2 separate regions of the Homo sapiens genome follow, and region 2 is linked to region 1. Evidence: fine-mapped expression QTL. A gene starts in region 1. The other region holds a variant in brackets. All regions are shown on one strand. Distances are from middle to middle.

The links.
Region 2: its variant is fine-mapped to the expression of PTBP2 in fibroblasts (GTEx, PIP 0.95).

What each region holds. Positions count from the first base shown.
Region 1 is chr1:96,719,361-96,724,751 of GRCh38, reverse strand. PTBP2 (polypyrimidine tract binding protein 2) reads right to left here and starts at 2,968. Exons shown (of 14, transcript NM_021190.4): 1 at 2,880-2,968; 2 at 1,158-1,188. The coding sequence starts at 2,887. RefSeq lists silencers at 2,493-2,772, 3,003-3,202.
Region 2 is chr1:96,816,994-96,822,384 of GRCh38, reverse strand. It overlaps a transcript of PTBP2 not described here. Among named protein-coding and RNA genes, the nearest start is that of PTBP2, 98 kb to the right of the region's middle. The variant C/G (reference allele first, on the strand shown) is at 3,102.

The sequences.
Region 1 (5,391 bases):
TTAGGTATATCTCCTAAAGCTATCCCTCCCCCCTCCCCCCTATATCTCCCAATGCTATCCCTTCCCCCTCCCCCCATTATGGATACAATTTTAAGAATTCGAAAAAATGTTTGAACAGTCAGCATCACTGGACTAAGCAGAAAGCCTCTCAGGACAGAGAGGCTTGCAAATGAAAAATGACAATACAGGCCGGGCACGGTGGCTCACACTTGTAATCCCAGCACTTTGGGAGGTCAAGGCAGGCAGATCATAAGAGGCAGGCAGATCATGAGGTCAGGAGTTTGAGACCAGCCTGACCAACAGGGTGAAATGCCATTTCTACTAAAAATACAAATTAGCTGGGCGTGGTGGTGCGCACCTGTAATCCCAGCTACTCAGGAGGCTGAGGCAGGAGAACTGCTTGAACCCAGGAGGCAGAGGTTGCAGTGGGCCAAGATCGTGCCACTGCATCCAGCCTGGGCAACAGAGTGAGGCTCCGTCTCAAAAAAACAAAAAACAAAAAAAAATTACAATACATCATGACATTAAAAGTTGCAAGTACTCAAGAAAATGTTAAGCATTAGAACTAAAGTTTAAACGATGAGTAGTTTTCTTAGCCAAAAAGGAAGGATTCCAAAGGATCTCTACCATAAAGACTTTCTTTAATAGACAAACCAGCTCTTAACTTCTAATTCAAATTTGAAGCTAACTGCCTCAACAACTTCCTTTTTAAGGATCAGTGTAATTCATTTCTAATGTGCTTTATTATTAACCAAAATATATTCATTTTCATGACAAAAAGTAATAAAAAACAAAAAACTTAGATTAACAAAATTATAAGATATAGGTCAAACCACTTACCATCCATTTAAAATCATTATTTCCCCTCAGAAAATTGGGGTATCGTTTTATATTACAAGAAGCCATGTGTGAAAGCATTTTCAATTTCTTGATCATTCATACTTACTTTAAAAGGTTATTCTTACAGACTGACAGTTCTAGAAAAACTTATGGTGATTACAAACTGTTTATATGGTCCAACTTTACAAATGAAAGGAAACATTTTACACTTGGGTTTTGTTAGCTACGTTATAGTTTTCAAAAGCAAAAGCTAAAATTTTCCAGTAATTATGATAATAGATCCAACAATCCCAGTTTCAAACATAGTATTTTCCTACCTTCACGCCAACTGCAACCTCAGTGACGATTCTGCAAAGAAAAAATAAGTAGTTTCAACCTCCTGTTATTCTTCTAATCACTCACTCTTTGGCTCTAAAACTTTTTAGGATAGTCCATCATTCATAAATCTTCCAGCCACTCACACACAGATGGGGATAAAAAATACCACAGATGATCCGTGACTTACCTGTACTGTTACCAACCTGGTTTTCTAAAAGTAACTTTCAAATGTGAGACAACTTGTGGTATTTTTTAACAACACATTCAATAGCCAAAAAGAACAAAACCCAAAACACTATGCCATTTCTACAATGCCAGTATACTGAGATTAATAATTTAACGCTTAAACTCTTTAGTAGTCTCCACAGGAACCAGGAATCAGGAAACATGAATTCTAGTGCAAGTTTTGACATCAATTTCCGTGTTGATCTGGGGGGAATACTGAACTTCTCTGGATTTGTTTCATCTGGAAAATAATCTTTAGGTAACATCTAGGATGATTTGAATTCTGTGAGACTGTGTTAACTTTTATAAAATCTTGTTTTTAGTACCTTTTAAAACACACCAAACTCTAGGCGCTTAACCAAATTGTTGATTCTTCAAATACTCACTGATTTTAATAAATGTACTTGTTAAATGATACTATGTTTACACTCCCAAAAGAGCTGCATACTGCTGTATTTTTGACCTTAAGCGTGCCCCCTTTCTAACATTGAGTTAAATTACTGAGTCTTTTCAGGTGTGAAGCATATGAGCGAGACATCGGTCCCTACCATTTCACAGTCTTGCCTCTCACCTCACTCAGCATTCCGTCTTGACTCAGGTTCGCAAAGATGCAGCATGGTTCTGGGTTTTTATAGTCGTTTTTCCAGAAACTGACCAAAGTAGCTAAAGAGATAGCCCTTTGTTGACTATCTGCTCTTGTTTCTGCCATTGCTGTTGGCCTTTGCCCATGTGACTGATGTCGGCTTCAAACACTTCGTTTTTTAGATGATTTAATTTCTGGGCCCTTTTGCCAAGCCTTGAATGTTTTCAGTCCCCACAAAAAGGCATTTTTTCCTCCCTCCCGCCCCCACTACCAGACTCAAATGAAAACAAAGGAGTATGACATCTGCCCTCCCCCTTCCTCCCGCCGCCGCACGCCCTCCCCCCTTCCCCAGCGGCTCCCACTAGGCTTTCCCCGGAGCTCCCGCCACCGGCATCTCTCCCGACCACGGAGGGCCGGGCGAGGCCGGAGAGGTTGCTCATGGCTGGGGTCCACATGGGGTGCCTCTCTCCTCTTCCCCTAGAGGCTCCCCCAATCCAAAGGCCTGTCTCTGCCCATCCCACTCGCTCTCACAGGCACCGCTAACCCAAGGGTCGGGTCCCAAGGTACGGATCGAAATGGCTCCTAGAGGGGGCAGGGACAGACCGGGGAGACGTTATGGGGTTCCCACCCCATCCCCCGCCGCCAAGCCGGTGCCCGCTCCCACTCCGGGATCCTCACCCCCGCCATCGCCCCTATGCCTCCCCAGCCTCCAAGCCCGCTTTCTTCTCATTTTCTCGACCAAAGCCCGCCGGGGGAAGCAAAGGGAGGGGTGTGTGCGATGGGGCGGGGGTTGGGTAACGGCAGCCCAGCCCTGGGAGGGGCCGCGGGAGGGTTTCTCCCCGGCCCGGGACCGGGCCGAAGGACGGTCCAACTCCTCTCTCACACACACCTTCTCGCCGGCCCGATTACATACCCGTCCATTGCCGAACCGGACAAAGCTTCGCTCACAAGAACCGAGCCACGCAGCCAGCGAGCCACACAAGCGGCGAGAAAATGGCGGCTGGGGCCCGACGGAAATTGCCGAAGGTGCCGAGGCGCACGGGCCACCGCGCGGCAGCGGCGGCGGCGGAAAGAGCCGAGCGCGCCGGCGCCCGGCAGCGGGAGGCGAGCGGCAGGGCGCTGGGACTAGGGGGAGTGGGCGCCGCAGCCGACGCCTCCTCCGCGCCTTCGCGCGCCTTTCTCCCTCCGCCCTCCGCCTGCCGTCCTCTGGAACCTGGCGTTCTGCTGCAGACCGCGGCGACCTGGTTTCCCCTCCTTGTGGGGGCGTGGGTGGGACACCTCCCAACAGCTCTCCACACTCTCTCTGCCCTGACTGCAGGACGCCCCCAGGCAGCCTCCACTTTTCACTCCAAGCCAAGTACCAGCTTGGCTACCGTCAACCTATGCGGGCCAAGGAAAAAACATTGGATAGCTTTTCTCCTAAGCCATCTTTTATTTGCAGACCGGCTCCAGCCTCTAAAACAAAAATCTTTACCCCACTGAACGAGACCACTTGGTAACAACAGTACTTTCTCAAGCAAGTAGAACTCCTCAGACTGAAATACAGGCTTTTGCTTCAAGACCTGTAGTACCAAGCCAAGTGGAGGAAAATGTGATTCTCACTTCAGTTGGTGATTAGTGTGCGCCTGTAGAAAATATTCACAATACGCTAGGTGGAAATAGACACAAATGGAGCCATGTGTTAAAATGCTACAATAGTTGGAGTTTAACATTTGGAGGCATGAAAGGGAAAGTGGAGATGGGAGTGGGAACAACTGAGTCTTCAGATTGGTTAGAGAAAGTAGAAGCATTAAAATGGGCTATGCAAATTGACTCCCTTTGCTATATCTTACGGTCTCAATTTTTACTTGATACTATAGTGGACATTTTACTTCAACGTGTTTTTATCAGAGGCTCAACAAAATTGGGAAAGGCACCCGCTTGAAAATTTGCTCAGTGAGTAGCGACTTTGCCAGTACCCATCCTTCTCCTGCACCCTTCACCTCCACCCCCAACACACACAAGGACAAATGCACTTCTAATTCTGAAAAATGACAAATACTCCCTGTGTCCCTCCAGTTACTCTCAATACTCACTCTGGGTTTTTCTGTGTCTCCTTCAGGCAAAGCTCTTATCCTTTGCTAATTGGAATTTCATATACTAAATGATATTGTGTATAATTTTTAGAATTTTTTTTTTTGAGACCCAGTCTCGCTCTTGTTGCCCAGGCTGAAGTGCAATGGCGCAATCTCGGCTCACTGCAACCTCGGCCTCCCTGGTTCAAGCGATTCTCCTGCCTCAGCCTCCCGAGTAGCTGGGATTACAGGCACGCGCCACCACGCCCAGCTAACTTTGTATTTTTAGTAGAGACAGGGTTTCTCCATGTTGGTCAGGTTGGTCTCGAACTCCTGACCTCAGGTGATCTGCCCTCCTCAGCCTCCCAAAGTGTTGGGATTACAGGCGTGAGCCACCGTGCCCGGCCATAAATAATATTACTTTTAAATTGGATAGACCCTTAAAGAGCATCTTGTCCAAACACTTTGCTATAGAACTCTTCAAAGCACCCAAATTTTTACAAATTCTTGATTTGCCTATGGGATTGTCAATCGTTAAAAAAAAAAAAAAAAAAGGCCGGGCACGGTGGCTCACGCCTGTAATCCCAGCATTTTGGGAGGCCGAGGCAAGCAGATCACCTGAGGTCGGGAGTTCAAGACCAGCCTGACCAACATGGAGAAACCCCGTCTCTTCTAAAAATACAAAATTAGCCGGGGTGGTGGTGCATGTCTGTAATCCCAGCTACTCGGGAGGCTGAGGCAGGAGAATCGCTTAAACCTGGGAGGCCGAGGTTGCGGTGAGTCAAGATCGCGCCATTGCACTCCAGCCTGGGCAACAAGAGCGAAACTCTGTCTCAAAAAAAAAAAAAAAAAAAAAAACCACATATCAAATTTCCTACAATAACCACTTCACCTTAAACCTTAAAATAAAGGATCTGTTATTAGTGCCACTAATAATCACTTTTCACATATTTGTGGTTTCATACATGTGTTTTCACTCAACAATTGAATGTGCAAGCTACCAAAGGGCGGGAACTATGGTATTAATTCTTGGTATTCCCCACATTCGCTCGATCGATATTGATTGATTGGTTCTCACTTTATCTTGGCAAAGACAAACCATTCTATGAGGAGGGAAGCTTGTCCTTAGGCAGCAGAAGAAATTACAGTGTTCACAAAAACACATTTTTCTTTATTTTTTTTTCGAATACGGTACAAGACCACAAACATACAATAGTTAATCTGCTTGCTTATTTAAGCTAACAGTTTCTTGGAAAAATGCAAGGTAATTTACAAGTCAAGGCACATAAAGTACTAGATTAAGACATGAAGTGAAATAAGAATAAAACAAGAGGACAAAGCATAGCATGAGTCAGGAATGAGGCTAATGCA
Region 2 (5,391 bases), 98 kb before region 1:
GCCATGCTTAACTTTCTCCAGGGTGCCGTAATCTTGATTCTGGTCCTTTTTTGTCCCCAACTTTTAAACAAACTGTTCTGTTTCTAACACTTGTGTCCCCAACACTTACCTCCAACCCAGGTAATACAACTACCTTCAAGAATCCTTTCCTAACTGCTAAAGATTGAGCACACTGTAATAACACCCAATAGTTCCTCCAGAAAATTTATCAACCCATATAATTCTTTACTTATCTCATACTGAACTGAAAGCCCCATGATAGGAAGAAATTGTGTTTTAGTTATTTAGGTTGGTGCAAAAGTAATTGTGGTTTTTCTAATTTTAACGGCAAAAATCGCAATTACTTTCGCACCAACCTGTATTTCATCCAAAGCATCTAAGCTGGCACATAGCAGGTAATGAACACTTGTTGAAAAAAAGAATTAAAGACTCTCAAGAGGTTAAATATTAGCAAATAGGCTGGGAGCGGTGGCTCACACCTGTAATCCCAGCAGTTTGGGAGGCTGAGGCAGGTGGATCATTTGAGGTCAGGAGTTCGAAACCAGCCTGGTCACATGGTAAAACCCTGTCTCTACTAAAAATACAAAAATTAGCTGGGTGTGGTGGTGGGTGCCTGTAATTCCAGCTACTCGGAAGGCTGAGGCAGGAGAATTGCTTGAACCCGAGAGGTGGAGGTTGCAGTGAGCCGAGATAATACCACCGCACTCCAGCCTGGGTGACAGAGCAAGACTGTGTCTAAAATAATAATAATAATAATAATAAAAGCAAATGTTAGCAATTTATGTGGCTAGTAATCCATATTTCTAGGAGCTATTTTCCTTGAAAGTTGGTAGTAATCCATATTTTTAGGAGCTATTTTCCTTGAAAGTTGATAGTAATCCATATTTTTAGGAGCTATTTTACTTGAAAGCATAATAATGGATGTTTTACACTGACATACAATCTTTAAAACTGAAACCAACCTCTTCTTAACTGTATAAAGTTAACTGCAGGTACACTCCTGCAGTTAACTTTATAAATAGATATAAAAAATTAAACTACTTTACAAAACAAAAATGGAAAGTCGAGGTAATAAATTAATCTCATATATACACTGTGTTATTCACAATGGTGTAGAGAGAAAAGAACAAAGACTTTGAGGTCGAAAAATGTCTCATAATTATCTCACCTTAAAATTGGGCCAAAAGTTGATTTTTGTACCACTAGATATTCCCAACCCTGTATTTCTACAGCATATTTCATATCTTACTTGAAACTACAAATAACACAAGACAGAAAAGACATGTACTATCATCACCTCCATTGTACAGATGAGAAAATGGACTTCGATAAATGAAGTGCCTTGCTCAAGCTACCATTGGTAAATGGTGATATGCTCAGCCTCCTGTTCCCTGATGTCCTTATTTTGCTATACTGTATACTGTCATAACATGAATCAGACTAGAAGCTATTTGAAAGTAGTAAGTCAGTTATACTATAACACAACATAAGCATTTCCAAGAATTGCCACACTATGCAAAATCATACAATAAAAACCACAGGACTTATGAGGAAAATGATAAGGTTAGGGCACAACACTCAAAATCTTCAACTCTGACACTAAAAAGGATAGAATTAATTTCTTAAAAGGCAGCACAGTTTACATGTTAAATGGTTAAGAAATATATAGACACTACTATAAATGACTTTATCTTGAAAAAGACCTGAAGTTTGCTTGAAAAAAAGAAGGTGTCAGATGTGTTGAAAACAGCTATCTGAAATTGGATAGGAAGTTATTAGCACCAGATATGGATGAGCGTGGCTTTTAACTTGTGGAAAACTGAGAATGCTAATAGATGTCTGAGGTATGTACATGTGTGCACACCATATATATATTTCTTACACAGCTGGTTCAGTTGGTTGTAATTTTCTGCTTTCATTTGTTTCTCAGGATGAAATCTTCAGTAAACATGAAATTCACATTATGCTTAAATTGTTCCCTAATATATTAAATATGCTAGAATATGCATTTTCAATGTCTAATAGAACCAGCTGTACTGTGGTTCTGTTTATCTTTGTATTCTCTACAATGTACATGGCAAATGTCCAACGTACATAGCAAATGTCTTCTGAGACATCAAAATGATCTTAGGGAAAAAAACACCTTCCATAAATAGAATGCCAAAAACTGCCCCCACCCCCAATTAGAGGAAAAGAAAAACTACTAATGGAATGGAACAGTATTTCACATAATCCTTATAAGTGAACATATGAAGTAATTCTCTCCATTTTACAGATGAGAAAATAATGGTTTTTAAATGTCTCTTATGTCAATGTCTATGCTTTTTCCAGAGTAAAAGTGTATTTATAATTAGAGCTATTATATATATATTACACTATAAAACTCCAAACTTAGGGCAAAGACAACTATAGCAATGTTTCTATCTCTTCCTGTAGCTAATTTCTAAGAATCATGACTATATGAATCAGAATCACATTTTAGAATTCTACAAATCTCCTTTTTAAAGGAGCTCTTTAACCGTAATTCTTCGACCAATTTCCCTCCACCATAGTTGAATATACCAGTAATAAATACATGAATGCTTCATGTAAATCACTACTAGTGATTTCAACCATCTGGAACCACTGCAATCTCAGAAGTTAAAAAGCAAAACAACACAAAACTGGAAAATAATAATAATAAAAAAAAAACCCACAAAAAAAGGGAGTGGGGGGAGGGAGGTTTTAAAGTGAACCAGATAAAAATAGCATAACACCTGAATATTACATAAAATGCACTATCATTTATCAACTCAATAACCACAAATAAAAAGAATCTAACTGGTTGATTATGGTTATAAAAAGTCTAAATCATTTAGTTGCAAAGAAGAGAATGATGGAAGAAAAACAGAGAAATAAACAGTGTTAAGTGATGGACAGCTAATGCAGCAACAAGGTTGAGAGAGAAATGGGGGTGGTAAGCAGGAAATAGTAAGACATGACAATAGATAAGATTGCTAGCCATAAGAATATTTTAAAATTTTGCTAAGGTTATGGGGAATAGCCCCTGAAGGCATACTTTGCACAGGTAATGTATATTTATAGTACAGCTCTAACTCTCA[C/G]AGAGAATATCAGTCATCATTCAGTAAGGCTTAGGCATTTCAACTGTTAGACTGTGCTATGCAATAGGAATAGAGAATGTGACTGAGGAAGCATTAATAGAAAAGCTATTTATGAAAATGACCTGAGTATCATTTCATTAAACCACAAAATGTAATAAACAAATCAGGAATTGAGTATTAATTTGCATTCTATTAAAAAAAATCAGTTCACATGGACATTCCTTCCCTGTCAGACTAAATTTGACTTTTAACACTAATCATACTGATTTCTATTATAAGCTATCAACTTGTACATAATAGTTTAAATTTATGAATAATAGCAGGCCTGTATTTCTTTTGATCAGTATTATACATTGAAGACTGGATTGGAAAGCCAGGGACTTGGATTCTAACTACAGGTAAGTTACAATAAATATGTTGCTAAACTATTCATTTGATCTCTAGAACTGTTTATCTTTAAAACAGCTGGTTAAAACTAGATATCCGGGTTCCTTTTCAGTTCAATTATTTCTTGGTATTAACTATATCTGCATAACTTAAAATTACTAATGAAATAATTTCCACACTCAGGAAAAAACTTTGAAGCTGATTTTTATAGAACTGAAAAAATGCATTGAGTGCTTCTCCAACTTATGTCCAAATGCATCACCTGCCAATCTTGTCAAAATGTAGATTCAGTAGGCTCATAGACTGAGTTTCTAATAAACTCCTAGGTGATACTAATTTGCCACTGGTCTGGTGACTATATTTTTAATAGGGAGGTTCTAGGATTTGAAGAAAAGTAGTATTGACCAGCTAGGCTAGTCTAGATATTAGAGAAAGCAACTATGACCACGAATAAAACAACACAAATATATGCTACAAAATTTCTTGATAAAATATATCTGGGATCTGCATTAATAAAGGAGATGAGAATTGGGTGGAGGAAACGAGGAAGATCTAAGTTGCTAACTGAAGCTGACAAGGGTTTGTTAAATATTCTTCTATTTTTTGTATGTTTGAAATATCTAAAAATGTTAAAATTTTCTGATTCAAAAACCTATACAACATACCAAGACAATAAACCAAGTGAATGAAAATAGAGATGCCACATAGTCTTTCTGTCCATTGAAATGGGAGCCAAAGAGGGAGGAAGAAAAGCGAGAGAAGTGCAAAACGGGTGGCTCTGTGAAGCTACAAAGGGTATGTTTGTATTTAAGGACCTTACACATAATTCAGCGTCTAAAATACCAATGATATAGCTCCTTGTTTACATCCTTAAGAGAAACCTGAGGCCCAAATGACTTATTTCTTAAACACAATTTAAAATCCTTGTTAAAAATTGGTTAAATGTCATGAGATTTGATAGGGGAATTATCAATGTCCAAACAGTCTGTTAAAAATTATAAAGTGTGTTTTGAACAATATTGTACTATTTAAACACCCAATATCATATTATTTGCCATTTTTATAACTAGGCAAAACAAGAAATTTAGCCTACAGAATATAGGACAAATTCCTCTTGAAAAGCAACCACTGAATAATAAAATACTAAACTGAAGGTAACAATTACCTCTTGGGAAAGAATAAGGTTTGAACTAAGATCAGAAAGAGGTTCATATGGGATTTCAGTTCATTCTGTAACGTTTTCTTTCAACTAATATATAATTACGTTTAAAATATGGAATATGTTAGGTAGTGATATAGTTGAGTGAAGTGCATAGGTGTTCATTACGGTTTTATTTTTCCGCGTATTTGAACAGTTCTTAATGTGAATAATCTAATACTCTATAACTTTAACATGTACACTTTTATTTGCAAAATCTGAAACTAGAAAATTTAAAGGGAAGCTATTCAAAATAACAAAGAATAACTATAAAACTAAGGTTTTGCATAATCAATGAATATTACGGTTTAAAATTAAGACTTTCTGCTGAATTCTTGCCATCAGATTTCCTAGTATACTCAATTTCACTGAATTCTGTACTTTCTTCTGAATGAAAAAAACGTTTTCAGATTTAGGCTCCATTTTAATATATTAAGGCAGCCAGAAAATCCTGTTTGAAGTTCAGAGCTGCTCATGAGAGTATGTCTTTCTTCCTTAGCCTTGAAATTCCTGAGTGTTAAAATTACCTGTTTCACAGCAACTTTTTTATACATATGAAATCTTAAGTGCAGTCTATAATTAAATATGTGCATTTTATGATTGGGCTATCAAGTTCAAACAGAAAATATAAAGCTAAATCCATGGTTTCTTTTCATCTGGCTTGGGATGCTCTCTATAACTGCATTTTACATCTTTCTGCTTTAT